2 separate regions of the Homo sapiens genome follow, and region 2 is linked to region 1. The links come from fine-mapping of genetic effects on gene expression. A gene starts in region 1. The other region holds a variant in brackets. All regions are shown on one strand. Distances are between the middles of the regions.

Region 1 (5,388 bases):
ATAGAGTGGTTACGAGGAGTGGGGTGGGAGAAGAGGAAATGGGGAGATGTAGGTCAGAGGATAAAAGTAGCAGATATGTAGGAGGAACAAGTCTGGAGATTCATCACACACCATGAGGACTACAGTAATAAAATTATACTTATACGCAACTCATGCTAAATGAGTAGATTTTACTGCTCTTGCCACAAAGACCAAAAAATGGGTAATTATGTGAGATGATGGATGTTAATTTGCTTCATTACAGTAACCCTTTTTCCTATCCATATGTATCTCATAACATCATGTTGCATACCTTAGACATACACAATAAAATTCATTTTAAAAATAAAATTTAAAAAATAAAGTCGAACTTATAAAAACACAAAGAAAAAAAGAAAACTGCAGAGAAGCTGCATAGAAATAGTAAATCTTTGGGGATTCTGGACAGTTGCTAGTTTTATCAATTCATCTAATTAAATATATGACTTTTCCTGTGCATAATTGCACATCATTTCTTAGTATCACTTGATAATGAACAATCCTTACCCTTGTCATTTTACCACCTGATTTTATATTGAGATCCCCACACCTTTTGTGGCATTTGTCATTACTGCTTAGGCTCACTTCCTTCCTAAGCAAACATAAAATCTCTTTGATGAATAGCAGCAGAACTTCCAAGCCATCTAAATTAAGCTCCTGGGATGGGTCGGGCCATTCCTGTGGTGGACACTGAGAGGGCTCTCACACCAAGGACACACACACACCTGTTTGGACATTGTCCCTGCTTCCTTGACAGTGGGCTTCATCTGACAGCAGATCCTTGCTTCCACCCAGGACTCCTTTCCACATGTTCCCACTCTTGCATGTGAACCACTGACATGTACAATGCGTTCACAAATACTGGGCTAGCAACCTAACGGCTGGCATGGGATATGACATCAACGCCTTTGGATAATAACTGTAAAACTCGATAGCTCATTTTCTAACCTCTCAGGAGTACTTAGAGCCTAAGAAGCTGCTGTCTAGAGCAACAGACTTTCATCCTGATATTGGGCTGCTTATAGCAGCCATACAAAGAGTGAAGCACAGAGAATGACAGAGAGAAAGAAAGAGAAAACTGAGATTGAGAGCTGAGAGAGACATACACAGGGAGAGGCAAATAAAGACAACGTGGCATCATGCTTATAGTATCTGGAACACACTTCCAGGATTAATAACAAAAGCGGAATCTGTCACATTTTCCCACTGATTTGTCAGCTCCTTGAAGATCGCCTTTTGCTTGCATTGACACTAAGTAAAATTGATGAGGAGGAAAGCACTGTCATGCTGAACAGGCAGTGCTTAACTCATATTTGGTAACAAAGCACAAAAGACCATACCATAATGTCCTAAAGAAATCTGTTCCTGACATTGCTACAAGGATTAAAACAGCTGTTAATTTTGCACAGGTTTAATCTTCCCAAGTTCCTGCCTGTTACCTCCTTTTAAGTCACCTGCTTCTTGGTTTAAAGTATTTTGCTAAATTCTACACATCCTATCAAACAACCAGTTTTTTTTTTAATTTTACTCAATTTACCTCCCCTTCTTTCTCTTCTATTATCAGTTGGATGGCCTTCTAAAGTCATTATTTTCTATTAGCATTTTCTCTGTTCCTTTTTATTCTAGTCAATATCTACACATTTTGAAATATACAAATCTACAGTAAAATAACCAAAATAAACAAGTAAAAGCAGGCAGAACCTGAGCCTGATATTTCAGGTTGTTGCTTTTTTGTCTCTCTTTTTTTTTTCAATTCCATATATTCTTTTCTCTTCTTTGTATTTTTTCAAGAAATGAAATTAAATGCACTACAGCTCCTCAGGAATGAGTAAATTCAAGATAAAAGTTGAGTAACAATCTTTAGAAACAAAAATTTGTCTGAATTTAAAACTGTTAAGCTTCCATTTTTCCCAAACTAAATTGGTAAACTATGGGGAAAAAAGTAATATGAAGCAGTTTAACTTTTGATTTGAGTACAGACAACATGTTGGCTAATTTGTATTGATTATATCTGCCAATCTAGATGCAATCACACTTTTAAAAGCAGAGTCCTGTAATTTGCTTTTCTATAAAATGTCACCAATGCATTAAATACTTCGAAAACAGTCTTTGTAAATCAATCTGTACTTATTAGATTTATTTAAATGATAGCATTAGAATTCCATGCCGAGATTTAATCTGGTTTTAAAATAACTCCCTACATGCAGAACACTTCCTAGGGTGGGAGAGGCTAGTTCCCAATTATTTTCATGCCGTCAGTACTAAAAGTATTTAATGACTCACTTACCTACAAGCTGTGAGTTGCCTGAAGACCTCTCCATTCAGTGGGATGTACACATTTTACTTAAGGCTATTTTACAGGAAAAAAAAAAAAAAGGGAAGAGTGCAGAACCACAGCATTTTCAAATGAAATGAAAAATGAAAGATCTTACCTTGTTCGTGTCAAAGGTATTATAAACTTGATCAATATGTTTATTGGCCTTCTGATTCAGACCTTGCAGACCCAAAAGTGTCTTAAATTCATGTAGTGTTTGCAGGCCGGATGGATATTCCATCATAAATGTTCTGTACCACACATGGGTCTCTTGTGTAGGAACTGCTTTCTGATCACCAGCTATAGATTTGCCATTCCCCATCTTGACTCACAGTCTACAGCTTTTCCTCAGGTTGTTTTCACTTAAGTTTTTGCTGGATTTAGTCCCTTACTCCTCACTAAAACTGAAGGCTAACATATGCCCTCAGAAAGCTACTCTAAACCTCTTACAGCAACAAGCTAAATAAGAATAGAAAGCCAGTGAGATTAACTTATCTGCCCAGTTTTAAAACCAAGGTCACTTGGCACTTGGTAACTAACATGCTTACAGTCATGCAGAGACATAGTTTTTTGTGAAGGGAACACGCAATATTTTAGAGAGGGTGATCCTTGTTATATTGTTAGCCATAAATTTTGCCTACATTATTGAGTGGTACAGTGGGTCTAATGGCAGGAACTTTGAGTTGCAATCAGGAAGCCTAGATTCTATGCTTTGTTCTACCACTTATTAACTATATTGAAACATTACTTACATTCTCGTGTTTCCTCATCTGTAAAACAGTAATAAAAGTTTCTGCCTTTTCATACCTGAGTATTGTGAAGATATATTTAGATAACATTTTACATGAAAAAATCATACATTGAGTATTATTAAAAAGAAGTCTATGTATAAGAGAGAAAAATAGGTAAAGAGAATTAAATAGTAGTAAGAAGAACTTCAGATGTAGTAGTCAGATAAAGGAACATATTGGGCTGTGTCTTCTGGCAGTGTTCTTCCTTTCTCTCCCCCACCCTCTGTTCTTACCTTTTTCTGGTCTCTCAAGTATCTACACATGCCACTGGCCTGCCAGCTTTATCTCACTCCAGTTTTCTAATCTGGCTAATCTTGTCCTAACCAAGCCCCATTTGCCAATGAACTTAAGAACAGGGTCAATGGACCTAAGAACTGTATCCAAGGTCCAGTAGTGGAAATGAATGCTTTGTGTGGTCCTCAACCCATTTTGGTACCAACCATACTTAGAACCAGAAAACCCCAGGTAGAATATAATTCTGTTACCCCTAAATTATAGTTCTCCTTTTTTTTTTTTTTTTTTTGAGATGGAGTCTCGCTCTGTCCCTCAGGCTGGAGTGCAGTGGCATGATCTCAGCTCACTGCAAGCTCCACCTCCTGGGTTCACGCCATTCTCCTGCCTCAGCCTCCAGAGTAGCTGGGACTACAGGCGCCCGCCACCACGCCCAGCTAATTTTTTGTATTTTTAGTAGACATGGGGTTTCACCGTGTTAGCCAGGATGGTCTCGATCTCCTGACCTCATGATCCGCCTCAGCCTCCCAAAGTGCTGGGATTACAGGCACAAGTCACCACACCTGGCCTACAGTTCTCTTTTCTAACCTCACTCAATTCTTTCTTTTATTTTCATTTTGGCCCAGCTCATATATCTGGTCTCTGTCTTTGTCCCTATTCCTTAGTCCTGACTGATTACCTGTTTATTATGAAACCCTTGATTCCTAAGAAGTAGCCATCATGGCCTAAATGAACTGCCTTGACCAGAAGTGGTGGTGGTTACAGTGAATATGGTTAATTTTGTTTCAAACATATCAATGTAGACTCTCAATGGGACATTTCGATGTCATAATTAGAGTTAAATAAAAGGGCTGGGCACAGTGGCTCATGCCTGAAATCTCAGCACTTTGGGAGGCCAAGGTGGGTGGATCCCTTGAGGTCAGGAGTTCGAGACCAGCTTGGGCAACTGGTGAAATCCCATTTCTACTAAAAATACAAAAATTAGCCGGGCATAGTGGTGCACGCCTGTAATCCCAGCTACTCGGGAGGCTGAGGCAAGAGAATCAGTTGAATCCTGGAGGCAGAGGTTGCAAGTGAACTGAGATTGTGCCACTGCACTCCAGCCTGGGCGACAGTGAGACTCTGTCTAAAAAAAAAAAAAAAAAAAAAAAAAAAAAAAAAAAAAAAAAGGTGAAAATAAGGTCATAGAATGTAAAACTCACCCATTTGAACCCATTTGAAAGAATTACTTGAAACCATTAAAGTGAATGATACTCTTTTTTGGACAGTAAAAAGGACAAAGGGGAGACAGTGAGGACTCAGCCTCGGGATTATTCAGCTAGGAATTAGAGAAATATCCTGCTAGAATTTTCAAAAAGCATTCTTTGGGGAAGTCCCCTTTAAGACTGTTTCTAAATGTCTGCCAGAGGATGCTCAGAGGTGCTGACTTTTTATCACCATTAACATTTATTAATCACTAATTTTTAAATTAAAGAAAAAATGGATACAGATGATGGCAGAGGAAGGTAGTAAAAGTTTTCAAGGAGGCAGGAAAATCCTTTGAGGAAGGAAAACTTTGGATGGATCAAGAATATAAGGACCTGAGATCCAGAAACTGTTTCTTCATATAAATTCTACTTTAAAGAAAATTGGCCAAGCGCAGTGGCTCACACCTGTAATCCCAGCACTTTGGGAGGCCGAGGTGGGCGGATCACCTGAGGTCAGGAGTTTGAGAGCAGCCTGACCAACATGGTGAAACCCAGTCTCTACTAAAAATGCACAATTAGCCAGGCATGGTGGCACGGCACCTGTAATCCCAGCTACTCGGGAGGCTGAGACAGGAGAATCGCTTGAACCCGGGAGACGGAGGTTGCTGTGAGCGGAGATCGTGCCATTGTACTCCAGCCTGGGCAACAGGAGTGAAACTCCGTCTCAAAAAAAAAAAAAAAAAAAAGAGAAAAGAAACAAAAAGAAAACCTGCATAATGATCATTTGCTGATGCAGAAAAAAACTTTAAAATTATTTGTAAAATGAGAATTCTTATATTGAATACAA
Region 2 (5,388 bases), 180 kb after region 1:
TTTTTAATTAAACTTTTTTTTTTTTTTGAGATGGAGTCTCGCTCTGTCGCCCAGGCTGTAGTGCAGTGGCATGATCTCAGCTCACCGCATCCTCTGCCTCCCAGGTTCAAGCTATTCTCCAGCCTCAGCCTCCCAAGTAGCTGGGACTACAGGCGCATGCCACCGCATCTGGCTAATTTTCGTATTTTTAGTACAGACCAGGTTTCACCATGTTGGCCAGGACAGTCTCGAACTCCTGACCTCAGGTGATCCACCTTGGCCTCCCAAAGTGCTGGGATTATAGGTGTGAGCCACCACACCCAGCCAATAATTATTATTTTTAATAGTTATTATTATGACTGCTGGTAGTAATCCACGGTATAGATATATCACGCTTTAACATTCAGTTGTTGAATGACATCTGGCTTGTTTTTAGTCTTTGCCTGTTGCTAATAAAGCTGTTATGAACATTCTTCTACAGATTATTTCTTAACGTTAAGTTTTTATTTCTCTGAAACAAAGGCCCAGTAGTGTAATTGCTGGGTTGGACAGTAATTGCAAGCTTGAATTTTTAAGAAACCACCAAACTGTTTTACAAAGTGACTGGAAAATTTTACATTTCCACCAGCAATACGTGAGTGATCCAGTTTTTCTACCTTTTTTTAACATTACGTTAATCTATGTAGATGGTAAAATTAGTAAATAAATAAATTACCCACATAAGAACAGCCTGTAAAAAGCCAGTTCAAAAAGTCCAAAGGGTAAAAAGGCAAGAGGTGTATAAAAAAGCCACCTCAGCCTCTCTCTGTGTCTCAGCTCACAGGGCTTCCAGGTATGCAACAAATGCTTTATACTTCTGAAAAGTACCTGATATACCCTAAGGCTTTTTCCAGCTAAATTAAAGTAAATAAATCTTTTTTTTTTCCCAAAATAGGATCATGGCCTATAAAATGCTTCAAGTAGTCCTGTGCTCAACATTGCTTATCGGTAAGAGCCTATTTCTTTTTTATTTATCATGTCTCCTACAGCCATCAGGTTGATAATTCCTTTTGTCTTCTTAAAGAAATGAACAAACACGTTTTTATCCATAGGCCTATTCTATAGCACTGGGGAAACCAAACTATTGTAGAAGGCTGTGGTTTTGAACATGTTAATGTTAACTGTGTGTGTGTGTGTGTGTGTGTGTGATCATTTTATTTCTAATTATATATTAACATGATACTGTTGCTAAGAAGCCTAATTGCTGCTGCCTCCAAATAAGTGCTGTTGTGTCCTTGAACAAAGAAAATTTTAAAATATCTTTCAGAAGTATAATACTTAACATAGTACCATTATATGAAGACCTCAAAGTACTTTGGGAACATGAATTTATTAACCTTTAGGGCAAGCTGTAGCTCAAAGTGGTGCTTTAAAGGCAGATCAAGGAAGGCACCAGAGGCCAGGCGATTTGCTGCCAAAATGACCCGGTAACTCAGTGGCTTCTATCAAAATTGAACTGAGAGGTCATTTGTTTTGCTTGTAACAAAAACTGAAAACACTTACAAAGATATAAATTATCTTCATGGTTAAATCTCTATAATTTATAAATATTTCTGATGCAGATGCTTAAATTAGAATAAACTTTTGCTTCTATGAAAATCTTGAGACTCATGCACAAAAATTATATTTTTCCTGAAGCCCTTCCCACACACAGCTAGATAGATGTATATATGTGTGTGTGTGTGTGTGTATATATATATATATATATATATATATATATAAAATAAGCCTTCAATTCCTAAACATAGAAATAATTTTAATAATGAGTTTTAATCATAAATATTGCAATTTGCTGTTGGGTCATGTTTAAATATGTGATTGAAACATTTTTAGCCAAGTTATTATTAAGCAGTTATAACCAAAGCATATACAATCATACACAATTACAGCCCACATTGCCAGATGAAGAAAGTGAGGCTGGCTCAGTTTAAGTGAGTGTCTCAGAGCACATTGTAATTTAAAGACATTAGCTGGTTATAACTCACCAGTGTAATGCTTTGCTTTGACCACTGATCCGTGCAGTTGACTTTAGAGGGGGTAACGGTGGTGGATGCCTGCAAGGCTAAAGCAATGCTGGCTGGTCCACATTCACCTATGAATGCTTCAGGGTCAAAAATATTTGACAAAGGAAATGGTTCTGCAAAATTTTTAAAGAGGCTTCAAAGACTTTCTTAAGAAACAAGTTTGAATTTACTTCAACTCCAACTGAGATACAAATATGTCTACCTATAAAGACAACTGGTTTGATTGACTTGACTCTAAAAAAAAATAATAAAGTTATCTAGTTGAAGTTTATGAAATAGCAAGTTGAGAACTAGAAACTAAGGACAGAGGTGTATGCACACTGCTGGATTAGCCCTTCAGATCTCAGGAAAGAAGGCTTCACTGCTTGCAGATTGAGGAGACTGATGCCTTCAGAACTGGATTCATTCATTACAATAACTGGTTTAGCTGACAGTTTCTACATCATGTAGCTCTAGAGAAGAAAGTAGTAGCTTGAATGAACTTTCTTTGCTTCTTTTCCTCCACATTTTCTTTTAAGAATACAGCCTATTCATCTGTACTTCTCTGAAGCCCTTCTGCTTATTATAAGAAAACCACTATTTTTTTTTAAAGTTTATTTTCATGTTTTTTAAGTTTTCTCTATTATAGCTTAGTCGTCCAACAAATTACTTTTCTTTAGAA[T/G]TTGATTTAAGGGAGGTAGGGAGAAGGTCTCATTTATCTATTTTCCTGATGGGAATGCTGAGGCCAAAAACAATGAAAGGCCTTATCCAAGTAATTAAATTTATGGGCAGAGTTGACAAGTTATTGATTATTTTCAAAACAGTAACTTATACGCATTGGAGCTGATTCTCTAGTCAGAGAATTAGAAGTTCAAGTGTTGTGATTTGATTTAAAAAATAAGCATATAAACCTGTCTTGAACATTTAGGTCAAGAATTGCCTTCTTTCAGAAATGAAGGAGAGATAAAGAAAAAAAATTTTAATTGCCTTCTTCTATAATGAAATCAGCAAATATTAATGCTACTAATTTAAATTCCTTTTATGTGTCAGGGACTTTGCATAGGCTATCTTAGTCAGTTCTCATGACCACTCTGAAAATACTAATAGATGCTATGCTCCTCATTTTACAGAAAGAGGGAACTGAGGGCTTAGGGAATTCAAGTGACCAAGCTACACAGTCAATCAATGGTAGAAGCTGCATTCATGTCCTAATCCTACATCTACCACTTATGAGAACAAAACTCTTCTTTCTGCTACACAAACTCTCCCCTCTGGCACTGCAGTGACTGACATGGGCTAGCAGCAGCTCACAGAGCAAGACGTCCTCTTGAAAAAGTGGTAGAGGCAGTATCATAGCCGTTGCTTCCATAAGAAACAACCAGGAGTTAAGAAGCTGGGTGACCTTACCTGACAAAATTGAGCAGAACCAGGACACCACCAATGACTTTCAGTGACAGTTCCTAGTTGTACTAATGGTGAAGAGTAGCAACAGGGCATTTATTAAAACCAAACAGCTTTATATCACATACAAAGGAAATATGGAAATATGGAAAAAAAACAAATTTGAAAAGTGTTTTTCTAAGTGAACCAACTTTTGAACGCTATTAAGATTTATACTGGGTTTTTTTTGTTGTTTCTCATTTGTGTATTTTTTTAAAGGATTGCTTTCATTCTTCTGCTAAAATGAAAAATAGATTTATTTTCCCTTAGCAATCATGTTCTCCTGATCAGATTTGGCAGCTGGAGTTGACCCATACACGAAACGATTTGGGGGTCCATGCCCATATTGTTGACCTGCGATCAGATCTGTCCATAAAGTGCAAGTATGTCTTCTGGTTTTAGACAGGGAGAATAATAAGCTGCCTTTGGTCTGTTTTTCCTCTGGTAGTTCCACCTCTTATTTTTCACTCCACAGTTAGTAACCAATGCCAGTTTGTCTTGAAAGATTTTTGATTTGCTTTGTTTTTTGACAAGAGCTTTTAAGCTCACATATTCTAACACACAACCCTGTCAGCATCCCCAATCCCTTTCTTTTTGCTTTCTTCTCTACCATAGGAAGACTAGCCCTTTTCAGTCATCCCTGCAGCCCTCCAATTCCTTAGAGATTCTGTATTCTCTGACACAGTTTTGGTTTATTTTTAAAGATTTTGTTCTTAATTTTACCTACTCACTTGGGCTTATGACTGATTGATACTCTCAAGAAGATACATAATGAGAATAAACTGGAAAATAATTTGGCTGGAAAAAAAAATGTTGTTGTAGGAAAATCCAGGTTCTTGTCATGTGACCAGGAAAGATTAGGTTCGCAGACACTTTGAAGGGTGAAGGGGACGGAATTTATTGGACGAAAAGGAAAACGGTAAAACAACACAGCAAAGTAGGAGAATGGTTCCTGTTAACAGGCCCTCATTTCACAGATTGAATCCCAGGTTCCTACACAGGAACAGGAAGGGCCAGGCCCCTCCCCGCTGCAAACGGCCTGAGCTTCCGTGGGTCCACCCCTTCTCCCAGTGACCAGGCTGGTCGGAGGTTCTCCTGGGACCCCTTTATACTTGGTTGTCTCAATGTCATTGCTTATGACTAGATTCATTGAGCAGTCTGGGTGCTGTAGAAAAACTGTTTTCCTACACATATGGCATCATCTGTCATATGTATATGGAGATGGGGATCCCATCAACACATGTAGGCAATGACCCAGAAAGAGTCACTATTGAATCAAATACAATGCTGCCTTTCATGAATTATGAATTTCCATGTCTACAAGATTAAAAGTAATAAAAGAACCACCAGCTCCAAAAACATGTCCAAGGAAATTCTGTGGCCATAAGAGTGAGTGCCAACATTGTGTATGTGTGTTAAGAGCAGGTTAGAACAGATTTAAGTTAAACCCAAGTGACACCACTTCCTGTTTACTTTCCAAAATATTCAATATGTCAGCAATTGTAATGCCAGTAAAGTGGAAGTTACTGAGTTAAAAGGTCAGTTAGAAAGCATCCTGTTAGACCTTTGTTTTTTTGTTGCTGTTGTTTGTTTTGTTTTTGTTTTTGTTTTTTGAGACGGAGTCTCTCTCTGTCGCTCAGGCTGGAGTGGAGTGGTGTGATCTCAGTTCACTGCAACCTCCACCTCTCAGGTTCAAGCGATTCTCCCGGCTCAGCCTCCTGAGTAGCTGGGATTACAGGCATGCACAACCATGCCTGGCTAATTTTTGTATTTTTAGTAGAGACGGGGTTTCACCATGTTGCCCATTCTGGTCTCAAACTCTTGACCTCAGGTGATCCACCCACCTTGGCTTCCCAAAGTGCTGGGATTATAGGTGTGAGCCACCCCACCTCGGCCCCTGTTAGACCTCTGAACAGGACACTAGGAT

Direction of the effects. Positions count from the first base shown, and alleles are read on the strand shown. Sizes are in standard deviations (SD) of each study's normalised expression.
With allele G in place of T in region 2, the expression in prefrontal cortex of the gene that starts at base 2,771 in region 1 is higher (moderate effect, 0.68 SD a copy in CommonMind).

The links. PIP is the estimated chance that this variant, and not a neighbour inherited with it, causes the effect. A credible set is the group of variants that fine-mapping cannot tell apart.
Region 2: its variant is the best candidate, but not a certain one, in a credible set for the expression of GUCA1C in prefrontal cortex (CommonMind, PIP 0.73).

What each region holds. Positions count from the first base shown.
Region 1 is chr3:108,951,109-108,956,496 of GRCh38, forward strand. GUCA1C (guanylate cyclase activator 1C) reads right to left here and starts at 2,771. Exons shown (of 4, transcript NM_005459.4): 1 at 2,451-2,771. The coding sequence starts at 2,654.
Region 2 is chr3:109,135,931-109,141,318 of GRCh38, forward strand. C3orf85 (chromosome 3 open reading frame 85) reads left to right here and starts at 789. Exons shown (of 4, transcript NM_001351622.2): 1 at 789-811; 2 at 914-966. The coding sequence starts at 918. The variant T/G (reference allele first, on the strand shown) is at 2,704.